Homo sapiens: one gene and its partners. The protein of the gene in region 2 interacts with the protein of the main gene of each other region in a pairwise test. Each region holds a gene or a part of one and is shown on either strand. Other genes may lie near its edges.

Region 1 (3,657 bases), on a different chromosome or scaffold from region 2:
TTTATTGAGTAATTAATTTGTGCCAGACTGTATGTTAAATACACCTTACAACAACCCTGTGAAGTCTGGTATTATTATCCCTATTTTTAAAATGAGAAAGCTGACACTTGCAGAGAGGTTAAGTAGGATCTGAACAAAAATGGAAAGGAAGGAATGCATATGTAGGGAATTTGGAAAAACATGTACAGCTTGCTGATTGGCAGTAAAAATTTGCAGAAGTGGTGTCGAAAGGGATTTAAAGTTTAGGTAACTAAACACTCACAATAAAAAATTGGAAAAAAGGGCTCAAGAAGCTGACTTCAGAGGTAGGCAAATGGGCAAGGAACAGAAGAGAGTAATACCTTCCTCAAGTTAATATGTATTTCTAATGAATTATTTCTGTTTTAATTAGTTAAAAAAACTGGTGCCATCCAAAATTCAACTAATGTGTAGTACTTTAAATATATTTGTAGTGTTCTAGTATTGCAATGATGTGTTTGAAACTTCAAAAGTGCAGAGTATTCATATTACTATGCTAATCTCTAGGCTACAAAAACAAATGCCCAGGAAAATTTTTATTACATGAGACACATTAAATTGAACTGTAGATTATTTTTATAGTTTCAACTTCATTCTAAATGTCTTTTTAGCTCAATCAGTAAAACCAAGTACAAGAAGAAAGAAAGGAATAGAACTGGGAGACATTCAGAGTTCCATCGAATCTATAAAACAAACACAGGAAGAAATTAAAAGGTAATAATATAATGACACTGACTATTCATTTGAGACCAAGGAGTAGTTAAGAATCCTGTTATATGGGAAATCATATGCAGACTTCATATTTTTATAACATTTAGCTAAGCTAAAATACAATGTTTAGCCTCTATCACCTGATGTTTGACACTTACGAAATTCCTCCAGCACTAAAATACTTGGGAAGGAAGGAGAGGTTGTTTTTTCTCTGTAAGGGTAGAATTGGAATCACTTTATTTTACTCCTATAGCATGCTAGGAATGTAGCTGGGTTGCATGTGGAGGTGGGATTGTTTCTGAGAAAGTCAGTTAACAAAGGCCTCTATAGTCCCCTCTGTGCATGGCTGTTATTTCATTGGAATGCATCAGTTGAAATATTGAAATACATCCATAACATTGGGTAAATATTTACTCCCTGAGCCCTTAAGTATTCCTCTTTGCAGTCCCAGACCCCGCCCCCCCCCACCCCTACATACCACCCCATGACCCAGCAACTAAAAATTATTAACATTAAATGCTCTGTGACTGTTTAATATCAAATTGTGGGCTCTATGCCAACATTTCTGGCAAATCATTACAAAATTTGTTGTTGCTTATTTTTATAGAAATATTATGGCTCTTCGAAATCATTTAGTTTCAAGCACACCGGCCACGGATTATTTTCTGCAACAAAAAGACTACTTCATCATTTTCCTCCTGATTTTGCTTCAAGTCATAATAAACTTCATGTTCAAGTAGAAGTTCTCTACCATTGAATCAGTGAACTAGAAAGATCTGATTTGGCCTGGGACCAGTGTTCAAGTTGGTTTGGTCTTTATTAAAAATCACAATATTCCGAAAACAAAAAAACCTAGGAGATAAATGTAGAGGTATTGACTTTTCGTATCTTTTATCTTCACACTGAAACAAGAGCTATCCTATTTGATTATTAAAGTGAGCTATGTGTTAAGTGCCAGGACATTTCTAGCTTTTGTGAGAATGTGTCTACATATGAGTATAATAAACCCACATGTATACACAATTGTCTCTTATGTACTCCTACCTGACAGTAGTCTTTGTATTCTATAGTATGTTCTGAGATATAATGTTAACATTGTTCATAACAAAAAATGCTATCAATCTTATAAATATATGTAATCTATTTTCTTCATAAAACAGGCACAAAAGTTTTATCAGTAAGGAATTACAGATTGAGAAATGATGGAATAATAGACATAATTAATTCAATACACTACTGTTAAAATCATTTGCAAAGCACTCAGCTCAATTATCTTCTTAGAAAGAAAGAAAAAGTATGAATGGTCAAAATGAATACATCGAGAGAGATAAATGGCAAATTGCTTTTTTAAAAGTTTACATAAGTTTTTTTTAACCCCTAGAATTTAATATTTGTAGATGCAGGTAAATATATATACTTACGTGTATATCAGTATAAAAACACTGGTGTGCAATTAATTGGATTGATTATAATACCACCTTAAGCACTTGCTGAAAAAAGTGTGGTCAAAATTGATTGCTGTCCTTTTGTCTTATTTTTGTTTTTCTTAAGTCAGCTGGTTCATAACATAGGCCAAATTCTAGAGATGTTTATAGAGCATTTGAAGTGCTGATAATTTATGTTTTTTCATTATGAAAACTTATTTTAGCTTTAGACTCCAGTGTGTTCAGTGAATAAGTAGAATATAAAAAAATATAACCAGTATTTTACTTCAAAAGCCAAAAAGAGGCAATAAGAAAAGACACTTTGTGGTGGCCTTTATGTGTGCATTAAAATTGGTTTCTGTAAAACGTGTAATAAGTTGAGTATCTACGAAGAGTATCAAGTTCTGAAGTTTAATTTTTTTATTATCCTCCTCTCTTCTTAGTAACTTCTTTCTGTGGCAAAACCACAATTCTTTAAGATTCCTATTGTTCAGGCTAAGGCAAATTTTTTTGTTTGTTTCTTCAGTTTAATATTTTGATTTTGTGTTTTTACGTAAATATTTATATTCCTTGAAAGCAATTTTTGCCAAGGTAGTTCAGTTTAGGAATATGTTGTTCTAAAATATGTCTTAGAATCCTGAAAGCATAGATTTTGAAATGTTTTTTTAATGAAAATGAAGGTCAGAGAGAATAATTGCCCTGACCACATTTGCCTTTCAGTAGGAGGAGGCTGTGAAATAGTAAAATTATAATCGTTTATGCCATGATAAATACAAGATTGGTAAATAAATACATTGATTGGTAAATTATGAGAATCAAAATGATAAAAAGAGCCTGCTTTTTTCCCTAACCAATATAGCTATCTTAAGTATCCTTAGGTTTCTGTGAAGAACCATTTCCCATGTTTTCTTGGCAAAATAATGCTGTATTCCATATGTACATGTGAAATGATGTTTTAAATTGATAAAAGCTTAAATAAGATCTACCTATACCCAGTATTTTCATGATATTAGAACAAATGGGTTTTTGGTTATATTTTATATTTGTCAATATAATTTTTGTATTCACATTCTGTTACACTCTGCCTATTCATTGATATATGATATTCTGTAAATATTGTACAATTTGATCTTTTTTATGGTTTAAATTAGTTAATTACATACAAATTGATTGGCTTATCACAAAAATCATTTCATCAGTAAACCTTGTTAACATTTTGTACTGGTGACCCACCTCTTAGGACTTTGGTCTTATCCACGTGTATGTTGTTTTCATTTGGTCCAAATAATATTTTATTTGTATGGGTATCTTCTAAGACTAAATAGGTAGTTGTGTTCTTTATTTTTAAAATTTCTTTTTAGAGCAAATGTTATGGGTTCTTACCCAAAGAGTCAAAAACTATTTCTTAAGAAAGAGCAGAGTTATTCATGACTGTTCTTTATACACTAAAAGCATGCATCTAATCTAATAGTCCTCTTATTATGCTTTTAGTTGTATGAGTCTC
Region 2 (3,657 bases):
CCCTGTCTCGGCATGTTTCAAGGGACGATGGTAGATGTACGGCAGTGATGTGAGTCTATGTGCAGCATTGTGGGTGCAGTGGTTTGCCTTCTTTCAGAAACGCATACTTCCCACTCCTTTGACTTTGCCAAAGATGGTATAGCAGACATTTGACATAGCAGAAAACATCACAAAGTCCATATAACTTCTTTTAATCTGAGGAGGGAGGAGATGGGGAGTTGGAAAAATAAAAATTAAAAAAGCCAGACTCTAAGCCCTATTAAATTTAGTTTGGGGATCTCGTTTCATTGAATGGGTCCATGGCCCTTTGGTGCAATTAATTTTGACTGCACTAAGGCCTGCGGCATTATAGACTTGATTGTGGGAGTTGCTGAAATTCCATTGGTACAATTTTCCAGTTTGTCTCTAGGGTTGCTTGGCCCCCAGTCTGCAAGTATTAGAGCCAGTTTTAATAGATGGCTGTGGTCCTCTGGCGAAAGAAGAAGATAAAATGTTAAATTCTGGTGTCTTACAAAAAAAAATGTGAAAATGGGACCAAAGAATGTCTCTTGTTTTTGGACTAAAAAGCATATGGTTTCTACTATGTAAAGAACCTAAAAACATCTTTGATTGCCTTTAATTACAACACTCACCAAAATATGCTGCACATGTTTCTATTGGGCACAATAGGTATGCCTGGATTTTAAGTCTTTTCTCCAAGGCAGCTCAGTGAAATACAGCCCATGGAGACCATACCAGCATTAAACCACTCTCCTCCATTACAACCCCAGGATAGTTTAAACTAGGAGTTTGTAAGCACTCTCTGCCCTGCCCCTCAGCCCAACAAAGAAGCTACTGAACCTGCGTTTCAAATCCTCATGAAGGCTATTACTGTCCTGCTAGTGCCTTTTTCGAGAATGGTCAACTTCTGGAGTAGTTTGGCTTAAATGAGAATGCTTCACTTTCTACTCATGCCTGTAGCTGGTGCATGAAGAAGACGTAGAGGGGTTTCCCTTTTTGGTGCTAGATGGCTTGTTCTCTCTTCTCTTTTCCTGCATTCATTTCACTATGCTTCTTTTACTTTTTGTCTCTGTGGACAAAGGTTTGTACATCAACTCTGGATGTATGGTGACTGTTTGGAAGTACCGATATATTATCTAATTCAAATCACTCTAGAGGCAATGCAAAGACCATCACTCTTGGCCAACCACCAATCCTTTATGTCCTTCATGGAGCTTTGGAAATGTTAGTTCCACACGTGTTGGGAAAAAAAAATATTCCACAGGGATCTTTGCATGATGGTGTGTAAAAACTTGGTTGAGGATGTTTTCTTGATGACAGTGTGTTGCTGTGGTGTGATGTGCACACTCTACTTGGCAGTCTTGTTTTGTGTCTGTCTGCCAGTATGTTTTTCTCTGTTTTATGTCTCCAAATATAATCACATCACTAAAATAGAATTAAATGTCCTCCAGCTACCTTAATCCTTGTCCAAAATCCAAACTAAACCACAAAACAAACCAAAACAAGAACAACCTTGTGGGCAAAGATTGCAGTCCATTGCAATGGATTCGATTGGAAGTGAAATGTTGAGTAGCTGAGGCATGGTGGTGGCCAACTGTTTGGGTCTGGATTATGATATATCGGTATTATCTAATGCCTCGACTTAAAACTCATTCGCTTGGTTCGATTCTTCGCTTGAAGAAGTGACAATTGTTGAGAGCTTGCTCCTCCACCCCTGTGCCTTGTCACTCACCCTCTCTTTTGCATAGGCTTAAATCAAGTGATGCTTACAAAAAAGCCTGGGGCAATAATCAGGACGGAGTGGTGGCCAGCCAGCCTGCTCGTGTAGTGGACGAACGGGAGCAGATGGCCATCAGTGGCGGCTTCATCCGCAGGTGAGCCTCATGCAGCATACACTGTAGCAGTTCTCTATTGTCAAGTACAAACAACTCCAAAACTGAGTGGTTTTCTAAAAAACAACCATTTTATTGCTCATTAATCTACATACCTGCTAAGTGTTCTTTTCTAAGCCTTTCCTGGACCTTGCCTGGGTGGGGTGATCCAAGATGGCCCCATTCACTTGTCTGGTGGTTGGCTGGGGCTGTTGGTGGGGCATGTCTGTTCTTCTCCATGTGGCCTCTTCAGCAAGAGAGCCCAGGTTCCTTACATGGTGGTAGCAGTATTCCAAGGGGGCAAGCCTCAGTGCACTTACCAAACCTTTGCTTGCTTACCTTGTATTTGCCGGTTTCATTAGACAAAGCAAGTCACATGACCACATCCAGACTCAATGTGGCAGTAGACAGGCATCACATTCCATGAGTTTAATTGAATAGAGCTTATAAAAGAGACTACTTACAGAGGGGTGGGCAGGACTAATAACAAGGAATGGTGAAGCACTTCTGAGCTAGCAATAGCAGGAAGTTGTTACCACCATAGTCCTGGGGGACAGGAGAAGGAATGATTATCAGAACCCAGCAATAGTTACGACTGTGGGCAAGGAACTATCAGTAGAGAAATACAGCCACTACCAAAGCTAACAGGGAGTGAAAGAGGGAAATAAATGCTGTAGCCCCTCACTCCTCTTGCCCTGCAGTTTCATTGGCCATTAGCCAAAGCCTACTGAAAGCCAGAGGGTAAGAGGAGCTGGGTGATATAGTCATGAGGTCAGCTCCTGAGAGCACAGAGCAAAGAAGGTCCAAGAACGGATTTGGAGTGAAAATAGAGAATAATGAGCTTCTTATTAATGATTTATTTTGAAACCTAGAATCAAAAGCCAATTTAAATATCTATTTTTAAAAGTTCAAATTATGACTCAGGGGCATTTCCTTTAAAAAAAAAAAAAACTCAAGTTACACACATCAGCCAATTCAGAACTCAGCTCTCCCTTTGCTCCCAGGGAAAGTAGCCCAAGGGTTCTCAAGCCTGGCTGTACATTAGAATCACCAGGGGAGACTTTTTTTTCTTTTACTACCAGTGTTTGGGCCCAATCCACACCAATTGAACCAGAATCTCTTGAAGTGAGACACAAGCACCTGTGGCCCATTAAAGCTCCTCAGGTGATTCTGATATGCACTCAGGGCCAAGCACCATTGAACTAGAAGTATCTCTTAGCTATTGATGATCATTTAAATAAACTTCTTCCCTACAGGAAAAAGCCAGAAAGTTCTCCTTTAGTTTTTTAATTTTCTCTGCCCTGGGCTGCTTTTGAAACCATAATGAGCCAGTCTGCATTGGGAGTTACCATGGGGGAAGGATTTTAACCCTTCTGAATATTTTTTAGCTCAATACCATATATACTAGGGAAATTCTGAAATAAGTACCTCCTTAACTTTCAAGTTGGACTGTGAAAAAATGTAATGTGTTTTGTGAGCCAGCTCCTTCCTCCCATTCCCATTCCACTCAACCTGAAACAATACTCTTTTGTCACAGTTTCACAGTTTTTGACTCTGAAATCACCTATGCACCATGCCACTAAAAAACCCATGTTATTAACATATGAGTAAATAAAAATCATCTTGAACAAGTAGCTCTCCTTGGAGTTCCTGGGAGCAAGCAGGGTTAAGGGGCAAACTGTAATTATCATTACTCTTCCCATTGGTGTCAATCCCAAGTGTGAAAAGAGATGAGCACAGAGACTCTGACTTAGCACAATAAGCTTTTTATTGTATTCTTAATTTG
Region 3 (3,657 bases), on a different chromosome or scaffold from region 2:
CCAAATCTACCTCTGTCGCCAGGCTAGAGTGCAGTGGCGCAATCTCGGCTCACTGCAACCTCTGCCTCCCGGGTTCAAGTGATTCTCCTGCCTCAGCCTCCCAAGTAGCTAGGATTACAGGCATGCTCCACCACACCCGGCTAATTTTTGTATTTTTAGTAGAGACGTTCTTTCACCATGTTGGCCAGAGTGGTCTGGATCTCCTGACCTCGTGATGCGCCCACCTTGGCTTCCCAAAGTGCTGGGACTACAGGCGTGAGCCACCGTGCCTAGCCTCATTCCTTTTTTTAATGAGACAAGGTCTTTCTCTGTCACCCAGGCTGGAGTGCCGTGGTGCCCTCGACCTCCCTAGCTCGGCCTTCCACCTTAGCCTCCCGAGTAGGTAGGACCACAGGTGTGGGCCACCAAGCCTGGCTATTTTTTTAAATTTTTGGTAGAGATGAGATCTCACTGTGTTACCAGGCTGGTCTGAACTCCTGGGTTAATGTGATCCACCCACTACAGCCTCCCTAAGTGCTGAGGATTACAGGCATGAGTCACCATGCCTGGCCTTCATTTTCTATTGTCAAATGATAGTCCATTGTATGGATATACCACATTTTCATTTATCCGTTCATCGGTAGATAGACATTTGGGTTGTTTCTCCTTTTTGGCTAATATGAATAATGCTGCTGTGAATATTTCTCTTGGGTATATACCTAGGAGTGGAATGCCTTGTTCATGAGACGAACTTTTATGTTTAATCTTCTGGTAAAATGCTAGGCTGTTTGCCAACGTGGCAGCACCACTTCCCACTTCACTCCCCTCCACAAAAAAACAAGAGAATTTCTCCACATCCTCATCCACACTTGTCTTTTTAATTACACTCACCTTAATGTGTGAAGTGGTATCTTAATGTGGTTTTGATTTGCATTTCCCTGGTGTCTAATGATGTTCAGCATCTTTTCATGTGCAGTTGACCTTTTTATCTTTAGAAAAATGTACATTCAGATCATTTGCCCATCTTTGAATTGTGTTTTCAAAAGTCAGCTGAGGCTGGGCGTGGTGGCTCACGCCTGTAATCCCAGCACTTTGGGAGGCCCAGGCGGGCGGATCATGAGGTCAGCAGATCAAGACCATCCTGGCTAACACGGTGAAACCCCGTCTCTACTAAAAATACAAAAACATAGCTGGGTGTGGTGGCACGCGTCTGTAGTCCCAGCTACTTGGGAGGCTGAGGCAGGAGAATCACCTGAACCTGGCGAGGTTGCAGTGAGCAGAGATCGCACCACTGCACTCCAGCCTGGGAAACAGACCAAGAGTGTCTCAAAAAAAAAATAAAAATAAAAATAAATAAGCTGGCTGAATTAAATTCAGCCCGAAAGTTTTCAGGTTGAAAAAATTTATTTTTGAAATCATTATGTGATACTGGTTTTTATCACTTTGAGTTGATCATACAATTTTTCTTTTGCTCTATTAATGAAGCAAATTATATTGATTTTCTAATAGCAAGCATCTCTTGCATTCCTCTGGTAAACCTAACTTAATTCTGTTGTACTATATTTCCTATTTATTGACATTTTTTGTTTGGACTTATTTTCCTTAGAATATCTGAATCTATGTTGAAATTTGCCTATAATTTTGTTTACTTAAAGTGGCCTTGTCATGTTTGATATCAGTATGCCAATCTCAAAGAATATTCTTCCTTTTATACTCTTAATCACGGTAATCCCTTTGATAAGTTAAACTGTTTTGTGAAATTAGTTTAAAAGTGACCATATTTTTTTCCCTTGTAATATTGTAAACTGCTGTTAATAGAATAACCAAAGGCAAACATGACATTTTGAACCATACACAATTCTGGGGTTTGCATAAAGGCTATATTAAATAAAACCTTCCAGATACCCAGCTCTTGCCTATAGAGTGGATAAGTTATCTATACCTGAAATAATGCAAACATTAGTGACAAATTACATTGAAGTGTAGTTTAAGTAACCAGTCTTCATAAATATGCCTAATCTCTGGAATATTTTCATCCAGACTGGAATTCTTTCTTCTTTGAGTGGCATAACTGACTGATAAAGCCTTTGAGCATGGTGTTTTTTGGTGAAAACCTAAATAATCTAGTTTTGTTTTCTGTTTTAAAAGAATATCTGGGCAGTGAGTTAAGCTGGGAAGACCTAGCACCTTGCTGACGGGATCAGTCTAGATTCTTCTTTTATATTTTTTAAATTGTGGTAAAATACCTAAAGCCAAATTTGCCATTTTAATCATTTTTAAATGTACAAGTCAGTGGCATTCATTGCATTCACAGTGTTACTCAACCATCACCAGCTAGTTCTTTTTATTGTAATTTCTACACAGTTTTGGTAAGTTGTATTTCTGTAGGAATCAATTTATTTCCTGAAAGTTTTGAATTTGATTAAAGTTATTCATGTCTTGTTAATCTCTGCAACATTTGTAGTTGTGTTTTTCTCCTTTTGTCTTTGAAGAATTTTGCCCGATTTTTTTCCTAGTAGTTTTCAAAGAACCAGTTTGTAGCTTGAGTGATACTGTTGTTTTCTAGTTCATCATCGTATTTTCTGCTCTTCCCGTTCCAGCTGCTTAAGTTAATTTTTAAGTTCACTTCTTTTCTAATATAAACATATAAAGCTTATTTTTTTCCTAAGGACCAGTTTAGCTACATTCTACAAGTTGTGGTACTTAGAACTAATCAATAACCATAGTATTATGTATTTTCTAATTCAATTCTTTTATAAAAGCATAAGTTATTTGGAAGTGTGATGTTTTCTGAATTCCAAATGTGTTACTTTTTTCTGTTTGCTTGAAAAATATGAAACCACTAATATTCAACCATATTTTAAAACTACCAAAACACCCATTTCATATAGTTCAATGTAATCTCGTTATTAACTTACAACTTAGTTACATTGTAATTAAGACATGTCAGAGAACATGTTTGTATACCAAATCTTTTTCTAAGTTTTAATTTTTGTGGGCACATAGTAGGTATATATATTTAAGGGGCCCATGAGATGTTTTATATACCAAATTTGGAAGGTTTAAGACTGGCTTTACAGTATATTCACCATACAGTATGGTCAGTTTTTATAAACACTTCATGTGTGCTTCAAGAATCTATGTATACTCCATACATTCAGTAGTGTCCCTCAGTGTGCTAGATTAAGCATACTCATTGTGTTGTTCAAATCTTCATATCCTTTTTTTCATATGATCTTTCTATTGCTGAGCAGTGTTTGAAAGTCTTATAGTGATGATTTGTGTTATTTATCCTTTAATTGTGCTAGCTTCTGCTTTATAAGTTTTATGAGACTAGAATTTTATATCTTCCTAATTGGTACTTTACATCCTCATGTCATTACCTCTAATAGTGCCTTTTGTCTCAAAATCTATGAAATTAATTTAGCAAACAAACTTTATTTTGGTTAATATTCACCTGGTATATCTTTCTTATTTTTGAGACTCAATTTTTATGTGTTGTTGTGGATTTTAGTGCATCTAATGAAATAACATAGAGCTAGTTTATCTTAATCTACCAGGACAGTCTGTTTTTAAACTGCAGAATTTAGCCCATCTGTACACTTACTGTTATTGATACAGTCAGACATTTTTTACCATCTTACATTTTACATTGTGCTTTTCATTTGACCTATTTTT

Evidence for each region.
Region 1: the proteins of SNAP25 (region 2) and OSBPL8 interact in a protein complementation assay, tested with the Homo sapiens proteins (one study listed by BioGRID).
Region 3: the proteins of SNAP25 (region 2) and ZNF177 interact in binary tests that used the Homo sapiens proteins (3 or more experiments, as listed by UniProt).

Annotation. Positions count from the first base shown.
Region 1 is NC_000012.12:76,353,701-76,357,357, reverse strand, and holds part of OSBPL8 (oxysterol-binding protein-related protein 8), read left to right. Parts: intron 1-629; coding exon 630-732; intron 733-1,336; coding exon 1,337-1,469; 3' UTR 1,470-3,657. UniProt on the Homo sapiens protein: Lipid transporter involved in lipid countertransport between the endoplasmic reticulum and the plasma membrane: specifically exchanges phosphatidylserine with phosphatidylinositol 4-phosphate (PI4P), delivering phosphatidylserine to the plasma membrane in exchange for PI4P, which is degraded by the SAC1/SACM1L phosphatase in the endoplasmic reticulum.
Region 2 is NC_000020.11:10,295,177-10,298,833, forward strand, and holds part of SNAP25 (synaptosomal-associated protein 25), read left to right. Parts: intron 1-1,748; coding exon 1,749-1,874; coding exon of another isoform or gene 1,875-1,878; intron 1,879-3,657.
Region 3 is NC_000019.10:9,366,006-9,369,662, forward strand, and holds part of ZNF177 (zinc finger protein 177), read left to right. Parts: intron 1-3,657. UniProt on the Homo sapiens protein: May be involved in transcriptional regulation.